2 separate regions of the Homo sapiens genome follow, and region 1 is linked to region 2. The links come from fine-mapping of genetic effects on gene expression. A gene starts in region 2. The other region holds a variant in brackets. All regions are shown on one strand. Distances are from middle to middle.

Region 1 (2,913 bases), 160 kb after region 2:
GGTCATTACAGAAAATTCTGTCCCACATCCATTTAAGTTTCAAGCAGTGAAGCGTCTTGAACCTCCCCAAGAAAATTATTCTGAAGCCCCGTTGTCCAGGAAACTTCTGTTCAGGGCCTCGTTTTTTTTCCTTCTTTAAAATCTCTCCCCACTCCTTCATTATGCCCCCTTGTACCAAACGCCACACTCTCCCTCCCCTCCCGTGTGTTTACACCATGCCCCATCTCTGCAAAACCTCATCTGAAAGCCCCTGGTAGTCGTCACTTGGCAAAGCTGCATGGATTTAGCTCCTTTAATCTTTTCTGGTAAATTAATCCCCCAAGCGCCTTCATTACTTATGCTGCTCTTCCCCGAATTCCCTTCAATTTGCCGACGCCTTTGCAGTTCTGCTGAGCCCAGCACCAAACAAGATGTCCTACACTGTGAGGCTGTTTTGCCTGGGGGGACTGTCACTCGGCATTTCTTTGGTGCTTCCCTCCAAAAATCTCAAAATACTCGTCCAGCTTCCAGCTACCACAGTTGTCTCTTGTGCCCAGTTCTGGGCCCCCCTTCACCCTGTGCTAATACACCACGAGGACTTTCGTGTGGGAGGGACGCCGGGAGTCATTCTTCCAGATGGACAGTGTTGGAGGGACCATGACTCCTCCGAAAGTCTAAGCTGAATTTGGGGTAGGGGGTGTGCATGCCTGTGTTTCTGGAGCAAGGGGCCATGTGTTTGCATTTTCTTTTTGGGAAATGTTCATCAAGTGATACCACGGGTTGGAGAAATACCAGTCTGGTCCCAGGCCTCTCATTTTATCAGTAAGGAAACTGAGGTCCAGAAAGGGGACACATCTCAGCCCAAGTCCCACAGCTCTGTACTAGCAAGACCTAGATTAAAATGAACGTTTGTAGGGATAGAATTTTGTCCCTGTTTGTAGGTGAACTGGCTGAAATGTAGACCAAGGAGTTCCCTGAGTGGGCTGGGGCACTGTTGGTCCTTCGTCACTTGGTAGCCGCCCTACCTTCTTTAGCCCAGTAGTTACCACAGCTCCAAAGACCCCATGAAGTCAGCAGCCATGAGCCCCTCCCCACAGACCAGTAAGGGAATACTGTCCAAAGGTGCAGGGCACTTCCATCCGTCTTTCCATGCAGGGCCACCCCCCTCTACTTCACCCCAGAGGCTCAGACGAGCCCTCCCCATCATTCCGCTAGGATCCCCATCATCCCACTAGGATCTCCATCATCCCGCTAGGATCTCCTTCATCCCACTGGGATCTCCTTCATCCCGCTAGGATCCCATCATCATCCCACTAGGATCCCCATCATTCCACTAGGATCCCATCGTCATCCCGCTAGGATCCCATCGTCATCCCGCTAGGATCCCATCGTCATCCCGCTA[G/A]GATCCCATCATCATCCCGCTAGGATCCCATCATCCCGCTAGGATCCCCATCATCCCGCTAGGATCCCATCATCCTGCTAGGATCCCCATCATCCCGCTAGGGTCCCATCATCCCGCTAGGATCCGCATCATCCTGCTAGGATCTGGCTTGTATTGCCCCCAGGCGCTCTGGCAGCCATCACTGCTTCCCTGGTTTCCCCAGGTCTCAGGCCATCTGTGTGGGATCACTTTATACCTTCCATGCTTTTTCTCTGGGCTGCAGACAGTTAGCAGGTCTCAGTAAGAACTCACTACTACAGTGGAAGATCTTGTGTGGTTGGCATTGGGCTGGCCAAGGCAGCCCAGGACCCGGCCTCCCACTCTCTCTCCCTGTTGCTTTCAGGTCTCCATTTGTCCACATCTGAGAAAATCTTCCGTTTCCAGGACACAGGGCTGCTCCTGCGGGTACTTGGGAGCCTCTTCCTTGGCGGGATTCTCGCCTTTGGTTTGGGCTTCTCTGAGTTCCTCCTGGTCTCCAGAACCTCCAGCCTCACTCTCTCCATTGCCGGCATTTTTAAGGTACAGACTCGGGCGTGATGCCAGTCCTGTCTTAGAGAGGGAGCCCCCAGGGGTTTCTCACCAGCAGCTTCAGTCCCAGCTCCTGCACCCCAGGGCCCTGCAGAGAAGAGAAGGAAGTGCCCCATTAGGTGCCAGGCACTTTGCTGAGTGCTGTGCTGGCCCCTCCTTCTGCCTTGACCACAGCCCTGTGAGAGGGTATGATCACTCCCATCCCACAGACAGGGACACAGATGGAGAGCCGCCCCTCCCCAAGGGCACAGCAGGGGCCTCAAAGCCAGCTCTGACTCTGCTAGGCCTGGAATGCATTCACATTTTACCTTGACTGCCAACTCTGGCACTGGGCAGTGGCCTGGAGCCACAGGTTGAACAGCCCCTATCCAGACTCATCAGGAAAGAGTTCCGTGATTGACTGGCGGTGTCCTCCAAGGCCATGGCCAGGGCTAGTGAGACCCTGAGAAAGCACCCCTGTGGCCAGCCTTGCTGTACCTCTGCCTCGCAGGCCTGTCCTTCCCTCTCATACCTCTTCTCACTTCTCCTTCTCCCTCCCACACATTTCAACAGTCCTCCCTGTTCAGGGGCAGGGAGGGACTTTTCTCTTTGGCCAGGCACACACCAGTGTTGAAGCAGTGTTGCCTAAACCCAGAAATGCAGGCCTGTCCAAGGGTCTTCTGGTGGCCAGCCGCATGCTGAGGCATGGCTGTGGTTCTTGGATGAACGGCCTTGCCAGTCCTGTTTGGAGTCTCTGTTTATAGAGAGCCCCGGGACCAGTTGTGTCTTCAGTCCGGGGTAACACAGCATTCTCACACATAGGCTCAGGGCTCTCTTCTGTGGCTGCCTTCTGGGGCAGCCGTCCTTTATCCTTGTGGATAAGGCGCGATCTGGACACCCTGGTCCCCAGCCTGGGATCTGGTTTGCCTCTTTTATTCCTGACAGAATTCCATGACAAGCACCTCCTTTGTTGCATCTCACAAAAG
Region 2 (2,913 bases):
CAGTCAAAGTCAACGTGGGAGGGAAATATACAAGCCTGGAATACTGGGAAGTTTAGTTCATTGGGGGCCATCTTTGAAGACTAGCTACCACCAGTCGCTAATTGTTCTTTTCTGGAATTGAATAATAATACATTATAACTTTGTCAGAAACTTTCATGCCTTCCAATGAGTAAAGTTTTATAAAGTTCTATTTATTCAATATGTATACAATTCATATACAGTCATGCATAATATAAGAATGTTCCAGTCAACGATGTACTGCATATACAACTGTGGTCTCATAAGATTACAATACTGTACGTTTACTGCACCTTCCCTATGTTTAGATATGTTTACATACACAAATACCATTGTGTTACCATTGCATATGGTATTCAGGACAGTGACATGCCACACAGGCCTGTAGCCTAGGAGAAATAGGCTATACCATACAGCCTAGGTGTGTAGTAGACTATATTGTCTAGATTTGTGTAAGAACCCTCCATGATGTTCACACAAAGACGAGATTGCCTAAAGACACATTTCTCAGAGTGTATCCCCATCGTTAAACCATGCATGATTGTATGTATTTTCCTTGTGGATGTAAAACTATTTTCTATATTACTCACAATGTATATGAGATAATTCGTGGTATTAAAGTATATTAACTATATTGCTAATTTAAAAAATAACAAATTACTAGACCTATATGAGTTCCTCTTTGTAAAGCTGTCAGAAGAATGTGCACCTAATGTTAAACTCGGATATCTCTGGGAATTGGGGTTACGGCTAATAGTTCATTTTCTTCAGAGATATTCTGATTTATTTTCAACCTTCACGTATTGAAAGCCAGCAATGATTTTGTATCCTGTTTGGGAGAAATTTTCTGCAGGTCGTTAGTATTATATTCTGCTGGAATATCTTTAGCAGTCATTTTCATTTCGCAGAATTTTCCTTTCTCATCTATAGACTTCGGTGAAACGGATATGAAACTTTACTTTTCGTATTGATGATTCACAGCAGTCACCTAAACTCTGTAGTTAAAGCAGAAGCTCCTCAAAGATCCCTCAGGGTAGGGCGGTGGCCGCGACGCCTTCTGGGGACTGTGGTCCGGAAAGCCGGCGGGGGGCCCGGGAGAGCCCCGGGAAAGGCGGCCCGGGGGCCTTTCTGCGCATGTGCTGTTCCTGTTTTTTACCTGGACGCCCTTCCGGTTCGCCAGGCTCTTCCGGGTGAGGGTCCTGCAGCCCGTGAATCCCTGGTCCCGCCGAGACTTGGACCTGGTGCGAACTGGAGGCGAAGCGGGTGCACCCACAACCTATAGGAAGGGCTGGCGGCGAGCTCTGAGCACTCGGGCGTCGGAGGGAACGGTGGGGCCGGGCGGAGCGGGCCTCGGGTCTGCGGAGGGTGGACGCGCGCTCTCCCTGTCTTTGGAGGGAGGGTTTCCTGTGGTCGGGAGGCGAGGCAGCCAGGGCAGGATTGGGCTCCTGACCTGCAGGCCACGGGCGAGCTCTCTCTAGGGCCCTGATTTGCCCGAAGAAGGCGCTTGGTGAAGGTGAAAGGTTTACGCATCCAAGTAGCTAGAACCTCTTTCCAGAACTTCTGCTGATGCACTTAGTCTTGCAGCCATTGATTATTATAGCTCAGCAAAGTTCAGTTCAACTTTCGGAAGAAGGATGTGAGCTGGAATGGGCAGGGTCAAGATTTGACAGGAAAAGACACTTCACTGGAGGTATCTGCGAGAGTCCTGGGTTGGAGGGAAGGAGTACTGGTTATAAATAAGGAAATGATGTCTTCATCACTTCCTAAACACATACATGTCATTCCCTACCATCTCCACCCTCTGTTTATTCAGAGCTGCACCAACCATGTTCATCACCTCACCTGGGATTTACTGAGTTTACCCCTTACAGAGCTACACGATAGGGGTAAAGGAAAGACTAAAAACCAATTTATCTTATATTAAAATTACGACTTAGTAAATATTTTTTTCAGTAATGCAGTTTGCTAGTGACAGATCCAATAACTGAATTCTGGTCCTTTGAGTACCAGGTCAGGGCTTTTGTCATCTACCACATTTACGTTACCTACCACAAGAAGTTTCTTAGTAAAAGGTCCTCTTGTGAAACTGCAGCTAAGGGAAACCAAACTGTCAAAAAGACAAACACCTTAAAGCACTTTCATTCATTCTCTCTGGATTCTGTCATCTCAAGTGGCTAAACACATTAGTAGGAAAACAGGTAAGTGACATAATATCATTTTCCTATTCCAAGAAATCTTTTAATCCTAGAGTCCATTTTAATGCCAAAATAGTGTTCCAGGCTTTGTATATACTAACTTTCGTTGACCTAGTCTCCTATTAATTGGACTCAGACGTTTTCAATTTTTTTCAAAGGAGGCATAGATTGACAGTAATTCAGTAGAAAACATTTGTTGACACTCACTCAGTAAGAAAAGCTCTATGAGACCATTCTAGAACTATAAATGGACAAGTGAACGTTTCCTCAACATGTTGCTTCCTGAACCAGACTGGTCAAAGGGCCATGTTTTTAAATGGGTGTGTGGCTTTGTAGGTAATTGTAGAGCTGCTGTGTGAGCCAAATCGCTCATGATTCCATTCGCCATTCTTCCTTACCCAGCTCTGCTTTCAACACTCTTGGCCCTTTCTCAAGAGAACATGAAAATGAAAAAATTTCAGGTAAGTTGCTCAGGGATTTACTTCTCACATTATACAGTGAATTTCAAGAGGTTTAGAGTAGTTTGCAGATGAAACGAAATGTATAAAATTCAGCATCAGAGAAGAGTATTCGATCAATACTGGAAAAGTGGACATAGATATACAGAAATCATATATTCCTATAGAGTTACTCAAATGGTTCCAGAAAGGCCCAGACAATATGAGATAGCCCTTACACTGGATTTTTGTGTGGTTTTCCC

Evidence for each region. PIP is the estimated chance that this variant, and not a neighbour inherited with it, causes the effect.
Region 1: its variant is the best candidate, but not a certain one, in a credible set for the expression of ZNF334 in esophagus muscle (GTEx, PIP 0.62).

The regions. Positions count from the first base shown.
Region 1 is chr20:46,351,077-46,353,989 of GRCh38, reverse strand. SLC35H1 (solute carrier family 35 member H1) reads left to right here. Exons shown (of 10, transcript NM_015945.12): 8 at 1,764-1,939. Among named protein-coding and RNA genes, the nearest start is that of SLC35H1, 12 kb to the left of the region's middle. RefSeq lists enhancers at 1,528-2,118, 2,356-2,415, 2,426-2,565, 2,119-2,710 and a silencer at 2,826-2,913. The variant G/A (reference allele first, on the strand shown) is at 1,382.
Region 2 is chr20:46,511,843-46,514,755 of GRCh38, reverse strand. ZNF334 (zinc finger protein 334) reads left to right here and starts at 1,197. Exons shown (of 5, transcript NM_001353824.2): 1 at 1,197-2,216; 2 at 2,616-2,674. The coding sequence starts at 2,654. RefSeq lists a silencer at 923-1,157.